Homo sapiens: one gene and its partners. The protein of the gene in region 2 purifies or fractionates together with the protein of the main gene of each other region. This does not show direct contact. Each region holds a gene or a part of one and is shown on either strand. Other genes may lie near its edges.

Region 1 (3,500 bases), on a different chromosome or scaffold from region 2:
AAGTGATCCACCCGCCTCGGCTTCCAAAGTACTAGGATTACAGATGTGAGCCACTGCGCCCAGCCAGATATATTCATCACTTCTATAATTACCTAAAAAAACTATAAGAACACAAAAGTAGTTTATTAACCCCCATTTAAAAAATGACTATTAAAAGGGCAACATTGTGCCCCGCTATGAAGGGTACAGTCAATAGTGCATTGGAGCTAGCTCCTACAGTCTGGTGAGGGCCAATTATTAAATATGCAGGAAGTGTATGAGCCAACTATAAGCCTGAAATCAGCCATGTGGGAGTATTCACACCATGGAAGTCAACAAATGCTACAAATTTGGGAATTTTTTCATTTGTCCCTTCCCACACAAAGAGCTGGTTTACTAGCAGACCACTGGGTATGCTTTGTTATCCAAATAGCTCATTTGTTTGAGTAGCAGAATACTGACTAATTAGTTTTCTTTTCTTTTTTTTTTTGAAACAGAGTCTCGCTCTGTTGCCCAGGCTAGACTGCCATGGCATGATCTCAGCTCACTTGCAGCCTCGACTTCCCAGGTTCAAGCAATTCTCCAGCCGCTGCTTCCCAAGTAGCTGTGATAACAGGCGTGCACCGTCATGCCTGGTTGATTTTTGTATTTTTAGTAGAGACGAGGTTTCACCATGTTGGCCAGGCTGGTCTTGAACTCCTGACCTCAAGTGATCCACCCGCCTTGGCCTCCCAAAGGGCTGGGATTACAGGCGTGAGCCACCGCACCTGGCCTGCTTTCACTTAAAAAAAAAAAAAAAAGAAAAAGAAATTAAAAAGAATGTGAGTAAAATCCTAGGCTATACACTAGAGAAACCATTGCTCACAGAATGCTGCTATCAAGGGTACAGGCTAAAAAAGAACATTAACTAAGCGAATTGTCAGTGGAACAAGGAACAGCTTCGGAGATAGTGGAAATTCCTCCGGAGGATAAAAGAAAACCAAAGGTATTCAGAATTTATTTCTAAGGAGCTCCTAACAGGTGAAGGCTGTCCACAGCTACCTGACTGAGTTAGGATGAACACCTCACTGCCAGAATATTTCAAATGTAGGAATCAAGAGGTCAGCCAGTCAAAGTGTTTTTCCTTCTAGTTTGACAACACTATGGAAGGCCAAGTTTGAATTTAAGATTCCCAGAGCTGGCCGGGCGCAGTGGCTCACTCCTGTAATCCCAGCAATTTGGGAGGCCGAGGTGGGCAGATCATGAGGTCAGGAGATCAAGGCCATCCTGGCTAAAACGGTGAAACCCTGTCCCTACTTAAAAAATACAAAAAATTAGCTGGGCGTGGTGGCACGAGCCTGTAGTCCCAGCCACTTGGGAGGCTGAGGCAGGAGAATGGTGTGAACCTGGGAGGCAGAGCTTGCAGTGAGCCGAGATTGCGCCACTGCACTCCAGCCTGGGTGACAGAGCGAGACTCTGGCTCAAGAAAAAAAAAAATTCCCAGAGCCTCCTTCAGGGTCACTCTATTCTTTTTACCTTTGGATTTCTTCATGGACTTCTCACCTGATTTATATTTGTTTATCACCACCACCCCCACCCCACCCATATTAGTCCCATGAGAGCAGAGACTTTGTTTTGCTCGCAGCTGTACCCACAGGAGTGCCCCCACAGGAGTGCCCCCACAGCCTGGTTACAGGAGCCCTCAGATCCTTGCTGAGCCAAACAGTACGTGAGTGAGTTCACTGTTCTGGAGTGATGTGTGAACAGACATGTTTAACAAGCCACTTACTTGTTATAAACTGGAACCACCGACAAAATCTGCATAGGAAAAAGTCATTTTATAGAGAAGATTACATGGTAGAAGAAATACACATAGAATATCTATGGAGGGCCGGGTGCAGTGGCTCAGGCCTGTAATCCCAGCACTTTGGGAAGCCGACGTGGGAGGATTACTCAAGCCCAGGAGTTCAAGACCAGCCTGGGCAACATAGAGAGACCCTGTCTTTACTAAAAAAGAAAAAAAAAGAATGTCTGTAGAAAGAACATAACCACTCTTTAGTGTACCTTGAGGTGATATAGACTTTTTTTTTGAGACAGTCTTGCTGTGTCACCTGGGCTAGAATGCAGTGGCATGATCTTGGTTCATTGCAACCTCCGCCTCCCAGGGTCAACCGATTCTCCTGCCTCGGCATCCCAAGTAGTTGGGATTATAGGCACACACCACCAAGCCTGGCTAATTTATATATTTTTAGTAGAGACGGGGTTTCACCATGTTGGCCAGGCTGGTCTCGAAGTCCTGACCTCAAGTGATCCTCCTGCCTTGACCTCCCAAAGTGCTGGGATTATAGGTGTGAGCCACCACATCCGGCCTGACTTTTTAATTCTTTCTCTTTTTTTCTTTTAAACAATGAACATATATTACAACTATGACTTTTTCTTTTTAATATAAAGAAAAACTTTGGTGAAGATGGACATTTTAACTTATATAAAAGCAAGTTGAGAAAATGTCATATAATTTTTTTTTTTTTTGAGACGGAGTCTCGCTCTGTCAGGCTGGAGTGCAGTGGCGCAATCTCGGCTCACTGCAAGCTCCGCCTTCCGGGTACACGCCATTCTCCTGCCTCAGCCTCTGGAGTAGCTTGGACTACAGGCACCCGCCACTACACCTGGCTAATTTTTTGTATTTTTAGTAGAGACAGGGTTTCACTGTGTTAGCCAGGATTGTCTCAATCTCCTGACCTCGTGATCTGCCTGCCTAGGCCTCCCAAAGTGCTGGGATTACAGGTGTGAGCCACCACTTTTAATACATGATTTCAACCAAATAAAACTTTTACCCTAACGTTTTCATCTACCAGAAGATTTCACGGAGTTTTTCATATTCACTATTAACAAAACACCAAACATCCTAGGTATGCAGGACACTGTGACACAAGTTACCTGGAAAAGTGCCTCCAGGCTGAGGTTTGCTTGTCCTGTAGCATTAAGGGCCTTGATGGCAGATGTTCTGTAAGGACAAAGGTCGAAGGTCACTTGGCATTTCAACAAGCACTGAAGCCCATCAGCTGTCATTTTTGGGAGGCAGAATGCAAGCTCCAGTCTCATTATCTCCCTTTCTCCAAAACAGATTCTGGCCCCAAGCCTGTTTCCTGCTGAGGCCCAGCCCACCACAGTGGAATTCATCCAGCAGCTGGGACGGTTGGCACCATCTGCTCCAGAAAGCTGGGATGATGAAAATGTGTGGCTGCAGAACTGAACAGTGGCCAAACTTGTGGGGTAGTAAAGCCAAGGCAACGTATATAGCTACCTGCACTTTGGAACTGTGCTGACTTATAATTATAGAATGTTTACAACTTGAAGGGACAATAAAAACCCTTGACTGGTTTATTTATTGTTTAAATAAGGGAAATAATTTCCTTCTAAAAATATCTTGCCTAGAAGACCATGAACCTGGCCCTTTGCTTTCATTTTACAGACTGGTAAACAGAGGCCCGAGAGCCACCCAGTGAGTCACTAGCAGAGCTGGTGGTGGGCTCTAGGGCTCC
Region 2 (5,607 bases):
CTGCTGGACACCCAGCTGACATCTTACTCCATCTTTGTACCCATTCAGCTCCGTTGAACATTCATTACCTGTTTTTGTGTCTCTGGCACTGCCAGTTAAAAGATATAAATTTTTAAAAATGTTTCTTGCTGTCAAAAAACTTACAGTGAGCTAAACTCTCTCCTAACCTTAATTATCCTAATTATACAATTTAAGAGTTTTATTTCACAAAGAAATAAACACTGACAATGTTTAAATTATAGTGTAAACTCAGATCAGGTCTTGCTGCTCTTCTTCTTGGACAGGAAAACTATCCAATACCAAGGCATTACTCTTGAAATAATGAAAAGAAAGAGAAGAGAGGAGTAAATCTAAGTGCGGGAGGCAGACACCTGGTTAACCACTGATGCCTGCTGATCAGAGGAAACCACGACCCTTCACCTAGACAGCGGTAGTTCTGGGGCTGATCATTTCCTGAGTTTTGTGGCAAAAGAATCAGTTGTTCTCCTTTTACCAACAACAAACTTCAACAGTTGGAGTTTGACAGAGCAATAAAAAACAAAACAAAACAAAACAAAACAAAAAACCTGTAGTATTTTGTCTTTGCCCCTAACACTCTCGCTCATCCACATTCTAAACTGGAAATGACAGATGAGAATTTATATCATTTTTGGTTAAATGACAGGTTTTGGCATTTTCCCTCATTAAGACATCCTAAGTTTAATTCAATTTCCTCATAAAAACGTCTCTGTGCTCCAACCTAAACTGTCTGTAGTTGCAGTCTTATTAAATGCTGAAAAAAGCTGATGGTAATTTTCTGTATACTTAAAGCCAGTTAAATGAATCAGCCAAAACAGTTATAGATTGTATTCAGTTTATTCATAGGCTGTGTGTTTTGAACTTTTATTAAAATTATATTTTTAAACCTGTTTTGAAATATTTCATAATCCATAACACTTTTAGCTATGGAACCTAGGCTCAGAGAAAATATTCTGTCTGAATTCATGCAAATACCCTTAATTCACTGTATTTTGGATGCAAATCTTACTGAAATAGATCTCTGGTTTAAAGCGGATCTTATTTTTAAAAGGGATGCAGTGAATATTACTTTGGCACACATTGTAAGATAAAATGGTTATCTAACAGTGTAATAACGTGAAAGCAAGTAGCAATTACCTAACAGTATAAGTCTGAAAACTCATATTAATCACAAATTACTGACATGTACTTCCAAAGCGATTCCTACCTAGTAACGGTAAACATTTATCTTAATCCCACGTGCAGGCAATATTTTCTGAGGTTACTTTCAGTTAAATTATACTGCATAGCAATAAAGAAAATTCTTTAAAAATACTTTGAAATCTCATGTCTCTTCTAAAGAAATAAAAGTGTAGCTAAATATCTATATACAAATGTGATTAATGATTTTCAGCAACAATTTAGAAATAAACTAAATATCCACCAAAGAATCTTTAAGTTTATGTGGCAGATTTATGACAAAAATACTACACAGGAATTTCAAATTATGTTTTGGGATAATAACAATGTGAGAAACTGCTCAAAGTATAATGGTGAGTGAAAATGCAAAAGATATATACATATACCTATCCAAATGTTAACATTTCTTTCCACTTACTTGTTTAATATAATTTCATTTTCTCATAAAATTCACATATACTTTTCAAAGTCCTTAATATCTACGAGTGCTTCTCATTTTTCACGCTGCATTAATGTACATTTGTCTTTAATATGAGCATTACTACTTTTATAGTCAGAAAATGTGGAATAATAAAGCAAATGCAATGCAATCCGGTCTTCTCTACTTTTTATCACTAAATTCCTAGACGTTGTGGTATTTTTGTACTAATGTTATACAAAAGTCATGTAAAAACTGCCATTAAATAAATCAAACTCTAACAATGTAGAAAAGTAAATAACTTTAGAAGCATACTTTAAATCTCATAAAAGAGAAGTAAATGTATTTCTGTTAGAGTCATTTATATATAGTATATGCATATAGCCTATAAAATTTAGTTGCGGTTTATCATAAATTACATGTCATACTAATACAAAACACTTAGTATTTGCAACTGCGGTTACTTTCTCTGAATTTAATATGACCCGTTACACTTCTTAGACTAGTATATACCTCCATGAGTTTCCACTGCTACTTTATAAATACTAAAATATTTTTAAAAGCCATTTCAGATTGAGCTGTACTCAACTCTAAGAGCTTGCCTTTAAAGCAAACCCACTGCAGCTTCCAAATGCTTGAAAGCATCAGTAGGGTCTTCAGCTATGATGGTCTGAACGGCCTGCTTTCCTTGTCTCTGGTCCTCTTGAGTTTCTCCTAAAGGCATTCAAGCCTTTCCTTTCTCTTCCATCCCCTGCCTCACAAATGAACTTCAATACCCAGATCAAAGAAGCGGGAGGTCAGACTCTTTCCTTTGGGATTTTCTGTTTGTTTATTTTAAAGAACGTTTCCAATGGCAAAGGCCACAGCCCAACTTCTGGACTAGGAGAGTCATTAAGTGTAAGGCCCTTCCTGTCTTCCCATCACGGGACCCTCACAGAGACCTCAGAGTGTTGCCCCGTCCTACAGGCGCGCAAACAGGCTTGATAACTAGCGCGCCGCCTCAGTGTTTGTCCCCTCTCCTCTCTATCCGAGAAGCCCTGTTCAGGTGCCCCCACCAGCACGCCCGCTGTCTGGCCGCCTGGCTTTCCTGTGGGGTGCAGGAGTGCGCCCGGCCTCCTGCGGGTCTCCGGGCGGCGTCACCTCCTCTGAGGCTTCCCCTCCCTTTCCACCCCGTCGCTCTGACTGCCTTACGGAAAGGGCACCAAGGAACTCTCGGGTGAAGCAGCTTCCTGTTCTCAGTGCTTTCCCTCCGTCCGGTGAGATTCCCAGTGAGACTGTTTGAATAAAATCACCTGGCAAAGGAAAAGCCCAAACTTTAGGGACCAGCCACGGCTGAGTAGGGGCTGAGCGGTGGCAGCCAATGAGATCTCGAGTCGGACGTGCAGGCCGCCGTTCCAATTGGGCGGCCGCCCCAGAGTAACCAATGGGAAGCGCGGGAAGGCCGGGAGGGGGCGGGAGCTCTCACCTGCCACTGGTCTAGGTGTCTGAGGAGCATCTTCCTGGCTCAGAGACCTTTTGCTCCAGGTGCTCATGCCGCAAATGGCAATCTGCGCGCGAACTAATTCGCGGCCGCATAATTTAATAACATCGTCCTTCCATTTGGCCGCGACTGCTCTGGAAAATTGGTTCAGTAGTAAACAGAATTCTAGCAGGTGGAACAAGAACAGGCGAGGCATCCTGGGCCTGGTCTCTCCTGGAGGTCTGGGTGTTGCAGCCTTTCAGGACTGCGGCTGCTGTGGCCTACACACCTGGGCCTGTGTGCCTGTCCCGGGCTTTAGGCTGCTTTCCCTACCCGGCTCAACCAGTCTTTAGTATGGGCTATCACTCAGCTTTTAAGGCAAGGTTGCCAGCTCCACCCCTTTCCCACACCCCTCCACAGAATTTTCTCCTTCAGCTCTTGTTCTGCCTCTCCGCCCTTCCTTCATTTGCCCATTCCTCTGTCCTTGGCCCTTTTACAGTTTTGTTTTTCGCTCTTTTGTTACCCTGAAACAACTTTGTATACTTAGGTAAAGTTATTTTAGATATGAAGCCTTTCTTTTTACATACACAGAAATAAAATTGAGATCGCCAATATTCTTACAACCCAGTTTTCCAGAGTGAACATTTGCCAAAAACCCTTCTAACCTAAATAGGATTATAGATTACCTTATAAATTGGATTAATTAGTATAATGTTGGGCATATCAATCCATAAAAATATAATGGATGAATGAATAAATTGTTGATGAGAGGGAAAACTGATGACTTTTAATCTGAATCCAGGTAAAAAGATTAAAATCCCCAGTAACATCATTTTAGGCTTGTGCAGTAATGTCTTTAATTTACAAAACAATTTCTCCATTGGACTTTCCTTCCACTCCTGTGGGAGAAGTTTGATTGTAACTAGTTGTCTAAATATTTTAATTTAAAATTCTAGTCTATGTCTCTGGAGACTGGAGAACACACCACACACACAGAGAGAGAGAAAGAGAGAGAGAAAAGAAGAAGAGAAAGAAGAAGGGGAAAAAAAGCAGTGGACATCCCACATTCCCAGAAATAATATTTTGATAACAAATTACAGCACAAGGATATGTTCATTTGTTTACTGTATTTTGTGTTTGCTGCACCTGGTTAGAGGTGATTCTTTTTTTATTACCACCACCTAATTTAGCATTTTAAAGATCCACACAGTTCTAGATAATATGGTTAGTAGACGACCCTTCTACCTGTAAATTTTTAGTACAAATAGGTTCATTTTTAAAAATAACTTACTTGCTTGTGTTCATAATATACTCAGATTAGTTCAGCTCCATCAGATAAACTGGAGACATGCAGGACGTTATGGTAGCTTTGAAATAAAATAATAACAATCTCTTAGTTACAAACATAACTATGGAATCAAGTAATTCTAATTTCTAGATTGCTGGTGATTTCAGTAGGCCCACTTAACATTGGTCAAATGCCAAGCAATGTGTAATTCTTCAAAAAATACCTGACCAAAGCTATGAGATGGTTAGAGGCAATTAATGATTTTAAATGGATTTTCACTAAAACACACAGTTTGAGAAAGGCCTCTCAAAACTGAGGTTTGAAAATATTTTCGTGGGTTAACAGTCCTTGTAAAAACAATCCACGTGCTAGGCTGTACTCCAAATTAATTGCTCATTAAAAATGTAAATTTCCAGAGTTTTTTGTTTGTTTTTGGGTGATTTTTTTGAGACAGAATTTGGCTCTTGTCACCCAGGCTGGAGTGCAATGGTGCAATTTCGGCTCACTGCAACCTCCACCTCCCAGATTCAAGCGATTCTCTTGCCTCAGCCTCCCAAGTAGCTGGGATTACAGGCATGTACCACCACACCCGGCTAATTTTTGTATTTTTGGTGGAGACTGGGTTTCACCATGTTGGATAGGCTGGTCTCGAACTCCTGACCTCAGGTGATCCACCTGCCTCGGCCTCCCAAAGTGTCCAGGGATGTTTTGAAATTTTATGTTGCCTACATGGTTTTACAGAGTCCTTAAAACTGTCCAGTACAGTGGCCACTTTTCCATTTTACAGAAAGAAGAAACAGATTGAGAGTTGTTCAGGGTAATTTTGGCCAGCACATATGCCAGATGTGGGCTTACCCTACTGCTAAGGATCACAGGCAAATGCAAGATTCACAGTCTTTACAGGCACAACTAAAAGGCATTTCATGTCCTTTAAACAAAAAGGAAACCTTTTTAAGGAGAAACAACAAATATGTCCATGCATACAGCTGTCACATGCTGGAGGTGGGGTTCCAACCCATGTCTACTGGATTCTTCTACAGTAATGAGAGAGGACTTTAATACTCCACTCTCAACAACATACAGATCAAAGACACAGAAAATTAATACGGAAATATTGAAACTGAATTGCACTGTAGACAAAATGGCCGTAACAGATACATGCAGAACATTTTATCCAACAGCAGAATCCGCATTTTTCTCTAGTGCACATTCTCCCGGATAGACCATTTGGTAGGGCACAAAACA
Region 3 (3,500 bases), on a different chromosome or scaffold from region 2:
CTAATCCAGCTTGAAAAGTAAAGCTTGTGTGAGGACTCCCCGAAAATCCCTTAAGAAGGTGCCCCCCTAAGGCTGGGTGCGGTGGCTCACGCCTGTAATTCCAGCACTTTGGGAGACTGAGGCGGGCGGATCACCTGAGATTGGGAGTTCGAGACCAGCCTGACCAACATGGAGAAACCCCATCTCTACTAAAAAATACAAAATTAGCCGGGCGTGGTGGTGCATGCCTGTAATCCCAGCTACTTGGGAGGCTGAGGCAGGAGAATTGCCTGAACCTGGGAGGTGGAGGTTGGGATGAGCCGAGATCGCGCCATTGCATTCCAGCCTGGGCAACAAGAGCGAAACTCCATCTCAAAAAAAAAAAAAAGGTGCCCCGCTGGAGACCTGTAGTAAATCCCTTAGTCCATCTCAGGCAGGTTTTGCTCCAGCAGTGGGACCGTAGTAGACTCTGTTGGTGCCATGCCCATATCCTCTCAACTCTTAACATTTCCATGCACACTGGCCAGTCTTCCAACTGCCATCACCTGCGCCTCTTTGCCTGTGGGTCTCCTCTGGTGCCTGGAGCCACTCTGCTTGCCTTTGGCTGAGGGTACCAGGATTTAATGCTACCCATGAGTAGCTCTCAAGCCGGTAACTGATACTGATGGGAGTTGGTGGATAAACATTCCAGTTCCCTGCCCCTTGGGTGGGATCACTCCGAAGCTGGAGCTCTACACTGAATTCCTAAGCTCCCCAGCAAGATTGAACTCCAGTTCCCATGGTGGAAACCTGCCTGATGGCATACCCCTTAAATGCCGCCTCCCTTGCCCTGCCTCACTTCCCCCTCCTCTACTGGTGTTTACAAGGACTTACCTTCCAAATCAACTACTTTCAGGCAGAATGAGGTTGTGCTCCTGGGGGGACACAAACCAACGCGGAACAGTTAGCTATTTCTTTGAGTACCAGATGAAGTTACCAGCTTCCATGAGGGTCTAAGCCATATGAAAAATACATATATTTGGCTGGGCGCAGTGGCTCACGCCTGTAATCCCAGCACTTTGGGAGGCCAAGGCAGGCGTATCACCTGAGGTCGGGAGTTCGAGACCAGCCTGACCAACAGGGAGAAACCATGTCTCTACTAAAAATACAAAAAATAAAATAAATACAATAAAATAGAAAAATACGTATCTTTGTTTATTTTTTTGAGACAGAGTCTCCCCCTGTCGCCCAGGCTGGAGTGCAGTGGCACGATCTCGGCTCACTGCAACCTCCCCCTCTTGGGTTCAAGTGATTCTCATGCCTCTGCCTCCTGAGTAGCTGGGATTATAGGCACACACCACCATGCCTGGCTAATTTTTGTGTTTTTATTAGAGACAGGGTTTTACCATGTTGGCCAAGTTGGTCTCGGACTTCTGACCTCCAGTGATTTTGCCCCCCTCAGCCTCCCAACGTGCTGGGATTATAGGCATGAGCCACCGCGCCTGGCCGGCATTGCCAATTTTTCACAGTCTCTACAGAGACTGAACAATTAAAAAAAAAAAAGTCAAAGGATACAAAAAAGGGTACTCAGTGACATTGGTGAAGTCCCCTTTTGCCCCTGTCTCCAGCTATTCGGTTTCTCTCCTTAGAACCACTCTGTCAGCTTCTTGGTGGATGTTCTTATTGAGTTAATTTATGGAAATACGTAAAGCACGTCTGTGTCTTCAGATAGTGGAATCACATGCTGGGTGCTGAGAAATCAGACAGATTGCGGCAACAGCAAATTCTCATCTCCCATCTCACACTCACTCTAGGCAGGACATAAACACTCCAAATCATTTTTCTTTTTCATTTTTTGCTCAATGTGTATAATTAAGTCCTCATAAATGTGCATGAGATGCATCTCTACTATGCAGATGTACAGGAAGGCTGGCCATGATCCAGCATTGCCCTTCCCTCTCAGGGTCTGCATGTTTCCCAAGAAGCACTGGGGCACCTGCCCTGCATCTCCCTGGGCAGTCAGGGTTGGGGGTGAGTAGATCCTTCTTTGGCCATCGGCCTTCCCGTTGGGACCGTGTGTCTTTCTCTCTCTCAGGTCGGCAACCACATTGATGTGCTCACTGGCAAGTGGGTGGCCCAGGACGCAGGCATCGGGGCTGGCGTGGACTCCTACTTTGAGTACTTGGTGAAAGGAGCCATCCTGCTTCAGGATAAGAAGCTCATGGCCATGTTCCTAGGTAAAAATGGCAGAGTAAGGGAGCTTTTCCCCTCATTTTTCTTGCTGATGTGTGATTTGTTTAAAAACTTTTTTTTGAGACAGAGTCTTGCTCCATCTCCCAGGCTGGAGTGCAGTGGCACAATCTAGGCTCACTGCAACCTCTGCCTCCCAGGTTCAAGTGATTCTCATGCCTCAGCCTCCTGAGTAGCTGGGCATGTGATGGTGTGGACTACAGGCGCACACCATCACATCCAGCTAATTTTTGTATTTTTAGTAGAAACGGGGTTTCACCATGTTGGCCAGGCTGGTCTCAAACTCCGGACCTCAGGTGATCTGCCCGCCTTGGCCTCCCAAAGTGTTGGGATCACAGGTGTGAGCCACCACGCCTGGCCTGAGTGCCTGCAGAATCAGTTCTGAATTCAGAGTCACTATGGACTTACACTGCCCACTTCATGCCCACTACAGCACTTGATGCCTTCTTGCAAAAGCCAACTGAAGCGTGCTGCATTCTGTGTATGTAGCCCTGGATTTCTTATCTCCTGGCCATTGCACATGGCATCTTCTTTGCCTAGAATGTCTTTTTTCCTGTCTTCCTATGTCCAAATTCTTTTCACCCTTCAAAGCCTAACTTAAATGTCGCCTTGCCCAGGAAGTAGCTTGATCCTTCTACAGAATTTGGGACCTTCAGCATCTTTCTTGCAGTTAGCTCTCATCAACAGTTACAGCTCTACAAATTGAATGCAGAATCCATGCCTTACTCATCTTATGTTCCCCACAGTGCTTTACATGTGGTAGGTAATAGATTAATACCTGTTGAATAAATACATCTTACCCGCCAGGCCCTTAGACACTAGCAATCTTGAGGAATTGTTGAGCACCTAATTACTATTATTATTATAGCTACAGTAGTCCCCCGTTATCCACAGTTTTGATTTCCATGGTTTCAGTTATCCATGGTCAACTGCAGTCTGAAAATAGGTGAGTACAGTCAGATACGATATTTTGAGGCTGGGTGCAGTGGCTCACGCCTGTAGTCCCAGTTTTTTGGAAGTGAGGATTGTTTGAGGCCAGGAGTTTGAGACCAGCCTGGGCAATATAGTAAGACCCCCTCTCTAAAAAAACAAAGATATTTTGAGGCACTAAATTTACATAATTTCTTTTTTTCCTGTCTCTTACCAAAAAGACAAATTCACATAACTTCTATAACATATATTGTTATACTTGTTCTGCTTTATTATTAGTTATTGTTGTTAATCTCTTCCCATGCCTAATTTATAAATTAAACTTTTTCGGCTAGGCACAGTGGCTCATGCCTTTAATCCCA
Region 4 (3,500 bases), on a different chromosome or scaffold from region 2:
TAAAAGTACAAAAAAAAATTAACCAGGCGTGGTGGCGGGCGCCTGTAGTCCCAGCTACTCAGGAGGCTGAGGCAGGAGAATGGCATGAACCCAGGAGGCGGAGCTTGCAATGAGCCGAGATCACGCCACTGCACTCGAACCTGAGGGACAGAGCAAGACTCCAACTCCAAAAAAATAAAGAAAAACTGGCTTATATTGAAATTATGGTCAGTGTTAGCTTCTCCATTTGCTACCGTTGAGTCACATCTCCTTTGCACTGTGCTTTTTCACCCATACTTTCAGTTTGTAAAGTATTTGTAAGCCGTCTTCCTATCTTCTAACAAAGCACTCCCTTCCCAGCCTTCTTTCACTGATACACTTGAGAAACCTGCTTTCTGTGTCTTAATTAAATTTCTAATAATAATGTCAAATAAGATGTGAAAAGGTATATAATCCAGCAGTACAACACTAGAGAGTTCTTTTGTGGGTTAACAGCACTCCATTAATCACAGGTGTTCAAGCACTTGTGAGTCTGCCTGACAGAAATAATATTTAACTGATAATTTCTTTTGCTTTTTCTCAAAAATGTCATGAAAGCCAGGCGTGGTGGCTCAAGCCTGTAATCCCAGCATGTTGGGAGGCCGAGGTGGGAGGATGGCTCAAGGATAGGAGTTTGAGATCAGCCTGGGCAACAAGTCATCACCCTGTCTTTACAAAATTTAAAAATTAGCCCGTCATGCTGGCACACTCCTATAGTCCCTAGCTACTCAAGAGGCTGAAGAGGGAGGATCACTTGAGCCCAGGAGTTCAAGGTTATTTTGAGCTAAGATCACACCGCTGCACGCCAGCCTGAGCAACAGAGCGAGACTCTCTTGAAAATTTTAAAAAAAAAAATCATGAGAAACTGACAAATTCCTTCCATTTAAACATCTGATAACTTACAGCATGAGCTTTATCAGAATATTGTATGTATATATTCACATAGATTATATAATGTCTCAGCTGATCTATGGTAAAGGGTAAAGCCTTACCTAGGGATTTGGGATTTTTTTTTGGCTTTAGGGGGTTTTTTTTTGGTAGTTTCAGGTTTTTTGGTTTTGTTTTTTTGCACAGACATTTTCTTTGCTCTTCTAAACCTAACCTTTTCCACTCAGACATTTCGACTCTCAGGAAGTGACTTCTTTTCCTCCTTCCTACTCCTGCCTCCTCAGGCTTCATCCTGTTTCCAAACCCTCTTTGATTTGTTCAAGGTGCCTGATTCTCTGTGTTCTATCCTTGAGTTCAGACGACACTCAAGCAGACAGCCTTACTCCACGGATCAGCCATTTATATATCTGGTAGGCAAGAGAATACTCTTCTGTCCTCTGACTTAGGATTTAACTCATGATGCTTGCTATTTTCTTACCTACCCTTCATCCTTTGTTTAGAGCTCCAATCATTATAAACATTCTCATATCCTGTTCTCTGCTATTTGCACATCCCAGTCACATAGGATCACTAATAATAGAAGCATTTACTCAAAACCAAGGTGGTCCCCATGCCTAGAGGCTGAGAATCCCAAGAACAGATTATAGTACAATGATGATCTGGTTAGACTTAGTCATACAAACACATGACAGCTTCCACTGTTGAGATGCTGATAGAATCAGGGCTGTTGTAAGGGCCCAGGAAAGCTATTTGTCCCCAGCTTCACGTTCCTAAAGTCTTAAAATCTAGACTTTTGCGTAAGGGGTGAGGGGGAGTTCTTGGGTGCTTTTCCTTTAAAAAAAAATTTTTTTTTTTTAATTTACCAAAAACTTCAAAAGCAAAGTGACTGGGCCTCTCTAAACCTCTGAAGCCCTTGTTATTGTCTAAGCATTTCTTCATTTTGTTTTATTCTCACGTACAACCCCATGTTGAGAAGGAAGATGCTGCCTGGGACATGGAACCTCTGGGGCCACTGATAAGGGGGTCTCAAGCTGGAAGTTGGCCCACTACTCAAAATTTTTGGCTGTGTTCTTGAATACTATAGCTTACCCCAAGAGGACTTGTGGGGAACAAGAATGAGAGGGTGAACTAGAAAGAAAGGTGATTAGGCATTGTCCACCCCAAAAGCAACTCCTCTAACAAAAGAAGGAGCTTAGAGCAGTTTCCATGGAGAGGAGGAGTGGCTGTTTATCATGGCTGGCCCTCTCATTAGCTCATTACCAAAAAACCTCAAGGGAACAACTAAGAAAAGGTTTTGGGATTAAAATCTGTTTAAAGAAATATCCGGAAATAGGGTTTCCCATAAAAACCTTGCCCATTTTTTCTAAATTCTGATTTTTTTCCTTTTTTTAACCAATAATTTTTGGCTTATTCTACATATCTGGTATTTGACTCTTTGTCAAAAAAAAAGGAGGAAAGAAAAAATAATAGGACTTGAAAGTTTCTTTCTTCATGCTCATCCTCCATTTGACGCACTGTCTGGAACTTAGAATTTAATCGAAGCATCTGTTTTTAAGTTGATCGGTCTTATTTTCTTCGGGGCTTTTTAAAAGTATGAAATCATGAGGCATTTTCTTTATTTTCTTTATTCATGTGGCCTGCTGGCCAGAATTTCTTTAACCAGGTAATTAAATGCTTCTCCTCATAGTCTCTCTGCTCTCTCCCTTCTGTCCTCCAGCCCTGATGTGAAAAATCAATAACCTCATTATCAGTATCTGCAGATGGGAGCTGAGCTCTCAGTGCAACATCTCTGCTCATGAGAATCCGTGGCTGGTACTTACTTTCCCTCGCCTCTTTTCTGGGCTCTACATTCTTAGAGCCTTATTTTCCTCCAAAATCCTTTCTAGCCAGAGAAGGTTTTTCTCAACTGATAAGGCAAAGTCTATGCTTTCCATCTTCTTGGTAGTTGGATTAAATGGGAGAAAAATGGGGTACAATTATATATGTAAAAAAAAAAGAGGGACAGAATTATGATCCACAGGGGAAAACTGAAACGTAAGTGAAAAATGACATGAGAAACTAAGAGTAAGTATATCTTGTTTACATTTTCTTTATTTCACTATAAAATATATTAGGGTTTTAGTCTTAAACTTTATTATTTTTGTCTACAGTCAATAAATGAGAACCAGATTGCAGATGGCAATTTTTGTACGATGGAAATTTTTATTTGACCATATAATTAATAGGATTAGTAGGATGTGATGGCAGAAAATAACTTTCCTAGAGATGAATATGCCTGGTAACTAGCAGAGCAACAAATGTAATTTCAAAATATAAACAGCACAAAAAAAAAAACAACTCAAAATGAATTAAAGACTTAAATGTAAGACCTGAAACCATAAAACTCCTAGGAGAAAACAACAGGGGAAAAGCTCCTTGACATTGAGCTTGGCAATGATTTTTTGGATTCGACCCAAAAACACAGGCAACAAAAGCAAACATAAACACATGAAACTACATCAAACTAAAAAGTTTCCTTACAGCAAAGGAAACAATCAACTAAAAACACAACAAAAATGTGTGCAAACCATATATCTGATAAGGGGTTAATATCC

The links. The genes of interacting proteins can lie anywhere in the genome.
Region 1: the proteins of RLN1 (region 2) and NAAA purify together in Homo sapiens (affinity purification with mass spectrometry; one large-scale study listed by BioGRID and IntAct). This does not show direct contact.
Region 3: the proteins of RLN1 (region 2) and EDEM2 purify together in Homo sapiens (affinity purification with mass spectrometry; one large-scale study listed by BioGRID and IntAct). This does not show direct contact.
Region 4: the proteins of RLN1 (region 2) and MAN1A1 purify together in Homo sapiens (affinity purification with mass spectrometry; one large-scale study listed by BioGRID and IntAct). This does not show direct contact.

Annotation. Positions count from the first base shown.
Region 1 is NC_000004.12:75,917,014-75,920,513, forward strand, and holds part of NAAA (N-acylethanolamine-hydrolyzing acid amidase isoform 1 precursor), read right to left. Parts: intron 2,963-3,500; coding exon 2,896-2,962; intron 1,777-2,895; coding exon 1,748-1,776; intron 761-1,747; coding exon of another isoform or gene 685-760; exon of another isoform or gene 102-684; coding exon of another isoform or gene 89-101; exon of another isoform or gene 1-88.
Region 2 is NC_000009.12:5,336,456-5,342,062, forward strand, and holds the start of RLN1 (prorelaxin H1 preproprotein), read right to left. Parts: upstream 3,422-5,607; 5' UTR 3,292-3,421; coding exon 3,081-3,291; intron 2,973-3,080; exon of another isoform or gene 2,908-2,972; coding exon of another isoform or gene 2,807-2,907; intron 1-2,806. UniProt on the Homo sapiens protein: Relaxin is an ovarian hormone that acts with estrogen to produce dilatation of the birth canal in many mammals. May be involved in remodeling of connective tissues during pregnancy, promoting growth of pubic ligaments and ripening of the cervix.
Region 3 is NC_000020.11:35,130,337-35,133,836, reverse strand, and holds part of EDEM2 (ER degradation-enhancing alpha-mannosidase-like protein 2 isoform 1 precursor), read left to right. Parts: intron 1-2,053; coding exon 2,054-2,195; intron 2,196-3,500. Other genes in the region: MMP24-AS1-EDEM2 (ER degradation-enhancing alpha-mannosidase-like protein 2), read left to right, coding at 2,054-2,195. UniProt on the Homo sapiens protein: Involved in the endoplasmic reticulum-associated degradation (ERAD) pathway that targets misfolded glycoproteins for degradation in an N-glycan-dependent manner.
Region 4 is NC_000006.12:119,182,262-119,185,761, reverse strand, and holds part of MAN1A1 (mannosyl-oligosaccharide 1,2-alpha-mannosidase IA), read left to right. Parts: intron 1-3,500. UniProt on the Homo sapiens protein: Involved in the maturation of Asn-linked oligosaccharides. Progressively trim alpha-1,2-linked mannose residues from Man(9)GlcNAc(2) to produce Man(5)GlcNAc(2).